Homo sapiens: one gene and its partners. The protein of the gene in region 3 purifies or fractionates together with the protein of the main gene of each other region. This does not show direct contact. Each region holds a gene or a part of one and is shown on either strand. Other genes may lie near its edges. The genes, in order: TMEM131L, VPS13A and SLC47A2.

Region 1 (3,654 bases), on a different chromosome or scaffold from region 3:
TTTTCACTTCTTGATATTGGAGAAGAGGTACAGAAATATTATGGATTGACTACTTCTGATGAGCTTTTATGCATTTGGTGAAAATCCTCAACTGAATTTTAAATGTTCTGTATAAGGACATTTCTAATTTAAAAGAAAGTTGGAGTCCTCTGAGGGGAATGTGGTCTAGGCAGCTGCACACATGCATTCTTGGTGCATTTAGTCCAACCCGTTTGTACCGTTTCCCCTGGCAGTGGTGCACACGCCTGAAGTGGACTTATGTCTGCAGGGTGGACACTGTGCCCTGTCTCCTCCACCTGGCGTGTGAGTATGCCCCCTGGTAATGCAGTTCACCCAGATCTTCAAATCAAACCATGGCATACCTTGTCTGTGGATGTATTATGATGGGGTGATTGGGTGTCTTATTCTGTTTCTCTCCCAGACACTCTCTGGGGTCTAGAATACAAAACATTTGTGAAAAGGTGAATTATGGAGTGAGTCCTGTTGGACATTTCCCCTGTTACGTGAGTCTTTTAGGCTTGAGCACAGTCTTTGACATAGGATGACTTTGCACACACTTGAAATTAGAGTTGAGGGAATCCTCCCTCCAGAAGTGCTTCTTCTGTGATCGCTTGTGCCCACAAGAGATATGTGCCTGCAAGATGCAATGCCCGTGGCAGTGTGGTAGATGGATGGGAGGGACCTTCTATATCTTAATACTTTAAAGCAGTTGAAATATAAAGGCATGGATGAGAAATGTAGTGTCAGAGTAGGTCAGAGGATTTGAATTCTTCTTCAGGATCCTCCTGTCTAGTACTTGACATTCAATGCCAATAGCTGAGCCAAGATGAGCAGGTAATAACACTTTAATAAGCGTGAGTAAATTTAATATGGGAGTCTGGAAACATAGAGTTTGCCTGTATCATTGTAGATGGTAAACCTGCCCAGAATCTTTCCTTCCTGTACAGATTACTAGTATGCTTATAATGTTTTAAATGGCAACAAATCTTTCACTGCCAGAATTTAAAAATACTGTTTGGCTGGATCAGCAGCATGTTAAGTGGTACCAGAGTGATTGTTGATCAGATCAAGTAAGAGCTGAGGAAAGAACTTTTGCTTTCCACCATGTTCAGACCAGCAAATTCAGAGGTGCTAATTCACAGTCCTCTACGTGTCTGCAGAAGTTATATGTTAGCAGGAGATTCCTCCCAGGGAAGTTTGTACATGGACATGCATTTTGTTCTGACTGTTTTATGTTCACAGCACTGTCCTGGGAAAATATCCGAGATGTTAAAAAGTGAATAAATTGCCTGCTATCCATGTACAATTTAAAATTGTTCAAGAATTTTAAATATTAAAAATAAGAAAGGACTGAAAAATCTAGGGAAAGATAATTATAGTCTGAAGGGAGGGTTTGGAGTTTTTTTAGTAATATTAAGGGTTTGGGGCTCTGTTGAATTTCAGAGGAAAGCATTGCAATAACTTGGCAAATGATAAACGCGTATAATTGACAGGTAAGTCACAAGTGCAAAGAATGCTTGAGAATGAGAAAAGCATATATATAAGAACCTTTAAGTTTTTACTTCCAGCTTTGAGCATTAGTTCTTTGCTAGCTTTGAAAAGTATTTTACTTTGTGAAATGTGTGCTGTTTCCATTGTAAGATCTTTTCTAGAATCTGAAGAAAACAGCTTGGTCTTTGAGCTGGACTCAACCTGCCTGATAGCTGAGAATCCTAAGTGCCAGTCACGTTGTCTCCTGTGTGACTGGCAGTTAGGATTCCAGCAGAATGGGAACTCACTCAGTGTGTTTGCCACATTTTAGCCATTTCTCCCAAAGTATACAAATGGTCTGTAGAAACCATTCTAGTCATAAGATTGCCTTTAAAGGGAAAAAGGGAAAGGTGGGGACAGTCCCGCCTCTTAAGAATACCTTAAGTGATTTTCCTAACTATCAGAACTCCTGGAGGCACCTGAATAATCTGCCTTCTCCTATTCTGAGGCTTCCCCCCACCCCCGGGTGTAGCTTATTGTGTGAGAAGAAAATGTTCTAGGGTATGTATGAATGGCTTTGACTACATACTTGCCATCAAGAAACATAATATTTTGTAAGTAATAGAAAATGTGTCATATTTGGGAGGCCGTGATGGGCAGATCACTTGAGCCCAGGAGTTCCAGGCCAGCCTGGGCAACCTGGTGAAACTCCATCTCTACCCAAAGAAGTATATGTATATGTATAGTAGCCAAATGTAGCCAGGCATGGTGGTACATGAGCATGGGCCTGTGGTCCCAGCTACTTGGGAGGCTGAGGTGGGAGAATCACTTGAACCCAGGAGGTCAAGGCTGCAGTGAGCTGTGATTGTGCCACCGCACTCCAGCCTGGGCAATGAGTGAGACCCTGTCTCAAAAATAAAAGCAAAAACAAAAAATGAAAAAAAAAATGTGTCCCTTTTCTACTCCATTTCCCCTGCCTGCTTCGGAGAGGCCTGTAGTAAATAATTAATTAAAATTCTCAATAGAAATAAAGTCTGCTGACATTCTTTAGGGCTCTGTTTTTCTACACTTGTTTTTTGGCATCAACTTGTCAAACAACTATCAAACAGTTAAACTTGTCAAACATTCGTTATACGTTCCAGAACCTCTTGGTCATCTGACAAGAGTGGGGCTTTATGTGTAATGTAAATGATCTTGTGAATATAGCTCTTTTTAAATGTTTGTAACCATTTTCACTGTCTGATCAAAATAATGTAGATTAGAGTTATGGCTAAAGACAAGCTATGGTTGGCCGCAGCACTACCAAGGAGAAATAGTGAGCAAATTATTTCACGGGTTTCTACCTGTAATAATGTAAAGGTATAATTAAATTTGATAATAGCTCAAGCCTTGAGCTTAACAGTACCTGAAAGTTTTCACTGAATTACATTCCTCACCTTTCTGAAATTATTGGTATTTGCAGAAATTCCAAAAATGTTCCTATTTACTTACAGATACTATTAACTTGAAATGAAGATTTAATGGTTTATTCAAAACAGACCACGTGATTGTGATTAGATTTGAGACAGTACAACTTTAAGCAGGTTACTGAGGAGATCACTTGTGTCTTGTTCTTCCATTTGTTTCTGTTTTTTAACCACTTTTAAAAGGAATTACTGACCTATAAAGCTGTACATACTTAATGTATGCATCTTGATGAGTTTGGGAATAAGTGTACATCGTGAAACCATTACCACCGTGAAGGGCATTAACATGTGCACCTCCCAACGTCTTCTCCTGCCCCCTTTATTATTATTAGTGTTCTTTCCATTTGTTTTTGATTTTTAACTGTGGTACACTCTTACTCAGTGAGGTCATGGGGAAGTTGCACACTTAATAGGATGACTTGGTGTATTAGGCTGTTTTTCACTGCCATAAAGAAATACCAGAGACTGGATAATTTATAAAGAGGTTTAATTGGCTCACAGTTCTGTGGGCTGTACAGGCTTCTGCTTCTGGGGAGACCTTAGGAAACACAGTTATGGTGGAGGGGTAAAGGGGAAGCAAGCACGTCTTGCATGGTGGGAGCAGGAGGAAGAGAGAGTGAAGGGGGAAGTGCTACACACTTTTAAACAACTAAATCTCGTGAGAACTCTCTCACTATCATGAGAACAGCCAGGGAGAAGTCAGCCCCCATGATCCAGT
Region 2 (3,654 bases), on a different chromosome or scaffold from region 3:
CGGCTTAGATGGAAAAAAACGGAAGAATGGAGGAGAGGCAATATTTAAAGAAACAATAGTAGCAAATTTTACAGAAAGCATGAAATACATTAATCCACAGATCTAGGGGTAAAGCACCTCAAGAAGGGTAAATAAAAAGTAAACCACATATAGACATATAGCAGTGTGACTGCAGAACATCAAAGACAAAGAGAAGACTGAAGGCAGCCAGAGAGATTTTTCTTTCTTTTTTTTCTTTTTTGCAATTGCAAGATTTAATACAGTGAAAACAGAGCTCCCATAAATGGGAGGGGACCTAAAGGGGGTTGCCGTTGCCCCCTGGAACGCCTGGGTTTATATCCCGATCATTGTCCCTCCCGCCAGAGAGATTTTTCTAGAGACACTGATGGTATTTACCTTCAAAACCAGCTCTAAAAGAAATTCTAAAGAATATACTTCAAGAATAATCCCAACAAGGACGGTTTTGTATGCAAAAAGGAATAATGAATAGAAACAGCAAAAACTTCTCTAATCCTAACTTTTAGAATAAAAGTTCTTCAAAAATAAAATATTCCATCAACCTCTGTCAGTCATTCAGAAAACTCTTATTCAAAGATTTAATGATGGCACAAAATCAAAATTTCACTTCTAAGTTACTACTCTCCTCAAATAACTTGAAGAAGAGTCTGGCTTACCCTACTCTCTGAAAGCATTCCTAATAGCTTCCTAGAGAGAATAAGTAATTTCCTTCTCTTTGGTGCATTTACATCTTATCTAGTCTTTGGCTGCTTTATTTAACCAAAGTGGTTAGTAATTGTTAAACGTCTACCTCCCTTAACAAGCTGGGCATTCCTAGTTACCTAATTATTAAAAATTGAACCTTCCCATCTATCTAGAGCAGGGCACAAATATTCAATAAAGATTCATGAAACTAAAACAAAATTGGAGTAAGGGGAGAGTTAAAACATTACATGGTGACTTTAGGTATCTAACTTCAAGGAGAAAATAGAATCCAAAGAGGTATATTTTTGAAATTCATCTACCCACCTGCTCCAAATCAAGAGAGAGCCATTTATCATTTCCTTCTTCAGCCACTGATATATGGTATTTGCTTTTGTTTTTAATCATATAAAAAGGGGTAAATGTCACAATTCTAGTAATGTTAAAACTGCTCAGGTCTATAGTGACACCAACCTAAGAAAAAAAAATTAACAGCTCAAAAACTGTTATGTATAACATCTTTATAAAATTTAATTAAGTAGTTAATAGAAACATTTAAAATAAAAGTTTCTTGATAAGCATAGAATGAACTCACTTGATAGTCCATTTTCAGGCCTTTACATTTAACAGCTCCATGACTACCAACAGTATCAATTGAAAACTGATTGGACAACTCACTATCAGTTACCATAAGTTGAACCTAGGAAAAAAATATTCCAAATACATCACAATTTAGGTACCTTTAAAAATTCCTGCTTAAACTGATAAATTACTTTTTAGCATAAACAAAATATTATATTGTTAATGCACTAAACCTTTATAATATTAAATTCTAATCTTTTTGGCCTCAAATATTTAACAAGTTATTTCTATCCAAGTTTCATAATATTTATTACTCAGAACTTTAAAAACTAAAAAGTGACAAGTAGCTAAAGACAAGGGAAAAACAGAATAAACATCGCATACCTTATTGTTATTAAAAAAGTGATTTGGCTGAAAAGAAAAGAGAACTGGCTTTTTATAATTAGGTGGATGCTTTCGATGAATTCCGTCTGCTTTGTACTGTAACATGCGGCCAGTTTTATTGACCATCCAATAAGGACTATGAAATGCCACAACTGTCTGACCAGTATTGTAAGTCATATGGACAGCAATATCTAAATCAGTCTTTTCCATTTCTGTAACACAAGTAAAACTGACAAAACTAATGTCTTGCTGATTAGGCTTTATGTGATATTCACTTTTCCAATCGTGATTGAGATAGTCAAGTAATTTTAAATGTAGCCTGGCTTTACCCAACTGTGCAGTACAAATCTGGGCTGAATGTCCTTCACTTAGAGTAAAAACCGAATTTTCAATTCCCTGTAATAAAAAAAAAAAAAACAAAACAAAATTTAAAATGTTGCAGAATAATATGCCTCAAAATTCTATTTATGTATTCCAAATGCTGCAAAAAATGCTTTTGAAATACCTATCAGAACAAGTCAGAAGACTTACATTCAAGTTCTAACTTTGTCAACTGTGTAAACCTCTACACGGTATTTAATCTGAGATTTGAGCTACTGTATTTGTAAAATGGTCTAAATGACTTACTTCAAAGGACAAACTGTGAAGATTAAATAACATAATGGGAAACTCCCCTGGAAATTATAAACATAAAACACTATAATTGGTAAAACAACGACAAAAAGACAATCTTAACCACTCGTGATTTTTATTTTGAAAACTACAAAACAACGTAAAATGTGGGCAAAAACTGATGGTAATCCAAAATAAGTAATCCCTACTACCTCCACAATCCCTCATCACCCATTTCCAATCACTGTTTATATTATTACGTCATATGTATCTCTCCAAACTGCTCATTTCCCTCGACCCTCCCTTCTATTATCTTAGTTCATGTCACTATATGACGTCTCAGTTTAAGAGTCCCCTAACCGCTCTTGTCCCCTCTAGTCCCTTCCCCACACCATGGCTCAATTGTCTTTCTAAAAACTGATCACACCCTTTGGAAACTGGCAGACAGAATGTGATCACTAACAGCATCCAATTAAAAGTTCTATGAGAACAGAAATATAAATTGACAGTACATCTGAATATCTCACCAGTTTTTCCAGCATCTCTATCCTATTCTTTTCCTATTATTATAATATAGGAATCTCTTCATCTCATGATTTTAAATTAATTAAAGCAAAAGTAAGGAGTTCTTGATTCTTTACAAGTTAAATAATATTCCACAAAATAACAATGGTGGTGGTAGTGCTAGAGTGATAAATAAATGGCAACCCTGTGTCTGGGAGGCACTGTACCAAATCCTTTACATACACAATCTAATTTGATTTCCCCCATGTCTTAACCAAGCAAATTTTATTATTATTCTCATTTTACAGACCACAGCAAAAGATTTAGAAAAGCAATAAAGCCTGCTTAAGAACATACAGCTAGCAAATGACAGAGCTAGGATGCAATTTCAAATCTACCTGACAGCAAAGTACAAATTCTTAACCACTATGATAATTTGTTATTCAATATGGAAATACACATTTAAAACCATAAATATGTTAACTTTTTCCTCCAAAAGAGACATGTATCAGAAAAGTGTAAACGGCTGGGTGTACTGGCTCATGCCTGTAATTCCAGCACTTTGGGAGGCCGAAGCGGGAGGATCACTTGAGCCCAAGAGTTCAAGACAAGCCATAGTGAGTCCCTGTCCCTACAAAATTAAAAATTAAAAAATATTATCCAGGCATGGCATGCACCTGTAGTCCCAGCTACTCGGGGGGCTGAGGTGGAAGGATCACTTGAGCCTAGAAGTTTGAGACTACAGTGAGCTATGATCGCATCATTGCACTCCAGTCTGAGCAACAGAGAGAAACCTAGTCTCAAAAAAATTTTTTTAAAAAGCAAATGGTAATTCTAAAAGTAAAATAAACCTATAATAGATGACAATGAAGA
Region 3 (3,654 bases):
ATAACATAAATTTGGGCCGGGCATGGTGGCTCATGCCTGTAATCCCAGCACTTTAGGAGGCTGAGGAGGGCAGATCACTTGAGGTCAGGAGTTCAAGACCAGCCTGGCTAAAATGGTGAAACCCCATCTCTAAAAATACAAAAATTAGCCAGGCAAGGTGGCACTGTAATCCCAGCTACTTGGGAGGCTAAGGCACGAGAATTGCTTGAACCTAGGATGCACCACTGCACTCTAGCCTGGGCGACAGAGCGAGACTTGGTCACACACACACACACACACACACACACACACACACAAATTTATTATTTTATTTTACAGTTCTGGAGGTTAGAAGTTTGAATTGGGTCTCACTGTGCCAAAATCAAGAGCTTGTTCCTTCTGAAGGCCCTAGTTGAGAATGTGTCTCTGCTTTTTCTAGCTTCTAGAATTCCTTCTGTATTCATTGGCTGGTGGCCCCACATCACTCTAACCTCTGCTTCCAGCCTCACATCTCCTCTGACTCTCCTGCCTCCCTCTTCTAAGGACCCTTGTATTTACATTGGGCCCACTTGGATGACCCAGGATAATCCCCCTATCTCCAGATTCTTAATCACACCTGCAAAGTCCCATTTGCCTTGAAACACTCACAGGTTCTGGGGATTATGATGTGGACGTTGAAACTTGGGGGCCATTATTTTGCCTACCATGCATGGCAAACAGTGGTTGTTAGCTTATTCCATATGAGACAAGCAGCCCTCACCCACTGCTGTCTGTGATTATGTCTCATCTCAAAGATGAGAATTGCTCTGGAAAAAGTACTGTTTATTTCATTAGTCTCATTTTCCCAACGTGATTCCAGATCTTCTGAACTACAGGCACAGCTCATCCTTGGTCAGGATTATTGGCCAATAGATATTTGGTTATTTTTATTTTGTTCCTGTGAGAGGTGGGGAGTATTTTGTGGTTTGTACACATTTGAACAAAGAGGTAATGCACTGGGGTTAGGAGATGTATGCCTCTTGAACTTTGTAATATGGTATGTATATTTCTGGTTATTATATGTCATGGCATGATCTTTTTTGGCTAAAGACTTCTCCCAAATTATGATTGATGTACCCTGGACCAGTGTTTCTCAAATGGGGATGACAAATTCTGGGATGTTTTTGTTGTGACAACTGTGGGGGTGTGGTGGGGGAAAGTGTTACAGCATCTAGTGGGTAGAGACCAAGGATGCTGCTAAACATCCTACAATGCCCAGGGGACCGCCCTCCCCCCACCAAACAAAGAGTTATCTGGTCTAAAGTGCCAGTAGTGCTGAGGTTGAGAAACTCTGATTTAGAGTATTGTGAATTAAAGTGGCAATTTCAGTGGCAGGAAGGGCCAGTGGCTTTGCTAGCCTGAGGTTGTGGGCCTGTTTGGGAGAAGCCATCGACCAGTGGACTAGGCAGGGATTTAAGAGGGAGTTTGATGAGGTAAAACAGCCAAGGGAATGGGGAGGTACTGGTAAGTTCTCTACATATCCCAAGCTGACCAGAGGCTGTGCATATGGTGTAGCAGAGACCAAGCCTCCCACATGTTCCTGGACAATGGAGCCTGTCCACATGGGCTGAAGAGACCCGTAGTACCCAGAAGAAAGTAAAAGCCAGGACTCACTTGAAAACAGCTGGAACTCTGAATACGTCTCTAGCCCACACATGGATCTGTCAGCAGAGAATGGAAGCTTTGCTAGCTATCAGAGGTGTTGAACACAGTCTCTGACCAGTAATTGGCTGAACACTAAGCTCTGCAGACATTTTTAATCCTAGAAAGAACATTTTAAACTAGAAAGCTAGACTTAAAAAAATAAGAACAAGGGGGAAAAAACTGAGCAAGAGACATCAGCAGCTGTACATTGTAGAGGAGACAGGAGTCACAGAATCAGTCTAAGCAAGTTACTTAACCAACACAATGACATTCCTTGGGTCTCACATGCAGCATTCTCCAGGATAGACCTGCGGTAGGCCACAAAACAAATCTCAATAAACTAAACTTAAAACAATCTTTTTTAAGAGATGGAGTCTTGCTATGTTACCCTGGCTGGTCTTGAACTCCTAGGCTCAAGTAGTGCTCTCATCTCAGTCTCCTGAGTACCTGGGACTACAGGCACATTCCATCATGCCTGGCAAATTTTGAAAGACTGAATTCATACAAAGTATGTTCTCTGGCCACAACAGAATTAAATTAGAGATGCCTGCCAGAAATAAAACCCCAAATATTTGGAAATTAAATGCACTTCTAAACCATAAGTCAAAGAATAAATCACATGAGAAATTTAAAAATATTTCAAACTTGAAAATTTTGATGAACATCAAAATTTATTAGATGCAACTAAGGCAATGCTTAGAGGGAAATGTACAGCTTCAAATGCCTATATTGGAAAGGGAGAAAGGTCTCGAATCAATGACCTACTATTCTACCCTAAGAAGCTAGTAAAGAAGAACAAACTATACCTAAATGAAGTAAAAGGATAAGAATGTAAAAGATTAGTGTGGGCCAGGCATGGTGGCTCACACCTGTAATCCCAGCACTTTGGGAGGCCAAGGCAGGAGGACTGCTTGAGGCCAGGAGTTAGAGACCAGCTTGGGCAATATAGCAAGACTCTTTCTACAAAAAAAAAAAAAAAATTAAAAGTTAAAAAATAAATAGATAAAAGATTAGTGTGAAATCATTGAAATAAACAGCAGAAGACTAAAACATGCATCTATTAAAAAAACTACTTTTCGCCCTCTCCCTCTCCCTCTCCCTCCCGCTCTTGCTCTCGCTCTCCATCTCCCTCTTTCTACGGTCTCCCTCTCTTGCGGAGCCTGGACTGTACTGCCATGATCTCGGTTCACTGCAACCTCCCTGCCTCAGGCTCCGGTGATTCTCCTGCCCCGGCCTGCCGAGTGCCTGGGATTCCAGGCACGCGCTGCCACTCCTGACTGGTTTTTGTATTTTTGGTGGAGATGGGGTTTCGCCGTGTTGACCGGGCTGGCCTCCAGCTCCTAGCCTCGGGTGAAGTGCCCGCCTCGGCCTCCTGAGGTGCTGGGATTGCAGACGGAGTCTCGCTCACTCAATGCTCAATGTTGCCCAGGCTGGAGTGCAGTGGCGTGATCTCGGCTTGCTACAACCTCCATCTCCCAGCTGCCTGCCTTGGCCTCCCAAAGTGCTAAGATTACAGCCTCTGCCCGCCCGCCACCCCATCTAGGAAGTGAGCAGCGTCTCTGCTTGGCTGCCCATCGTCTGGGATGTGAGGAGCCCCTGTGCCTGGCCACCCCATCTGGGAAGTGAGGCGCGCCTCTGCCTGGCTGCCACCACGTCTAGGAAGTGAGGAGCGTCTCTGCCTGGCCGCCCATCATCTGGGATGTGAGGAGCCCCTCTGCCTGGCCGCCCCGTCTGGGAAGTGAGGAGTGCCTCTGCCCAGTCGCCCCATCTGGGAGGTGAGGAGCGCCTCTGCCTGGCCGCCCCGTCTGGGAGGGTTAAATGGATTAAGGGCGGTGCAAGATGTGCTTTGTTAAACAGATGCTTGAAGGCAGCATGCTCATTAAGAGTCATCACCACTCCCTAATCTCAAGTACCCAGGGACACAAACAGGGCCGAAGGCCGCAGGGACCTCTGCCTAGGAAAACCAGAGACCTTTGTTCTGGTGTTTATCTG

Evidence for each region.
Region 1: the proteins of SLC47A2 (region 3) and TMEM131L purify together in Homo sapiens (affinity purification with mass spectrometry; one large-scale study listed by BioGRID and IntAct). This does not show direct contact.
Region 2: the proteins of SLC47A2 (region 3) and VPS13A purify together in Homo sapiens (affinity purification with mass spectrometry; one large-scale study listed by BioGRID and IntAct). This does not show direct contact.

Annotation. Positions count from the first base shown.
Region 1 is NC_000004.12:153,605,739-153,609,392, forward strand, and holds part of TMEM131L (transmembrane protein 131-like isoform 1 precursor), read left to right. Parts: intron 1-3,654.
Region 2 is NC_000009.12:77,337,923-77,341,576, reverse strand, and holds part of VPS13A (intermembrane lipid transfer protein VPS13A), read right to left. Parts: intron 2,062-3,654; coding exon 1,666-2,061; intron 1,400-1,665; coding exon 1,295-1,399; intron 1,174-1,294; coding exon 1,027-1,173; intron 1-1,026. UniProt on the Homo sapiens protein: Mediates the transfer of lipids between membranes at organelle contact sites. Binds phospholipids. Required for the formation or stabilization of ER-mitochondria contact sites which enable transfer of lipids between the ER and mitochondria.
Region 3 is NC_000017.11:19,682,070-19,685,723, forward strand, and holds part of SLC47A2 (multidrug and toxin extrusion protein 2), read right to left. Parts: intron 1-3,654. UniProt on the Homo sapiens protein: Multidrug efflux pump that functions as a H(+)/organic cation antiporter.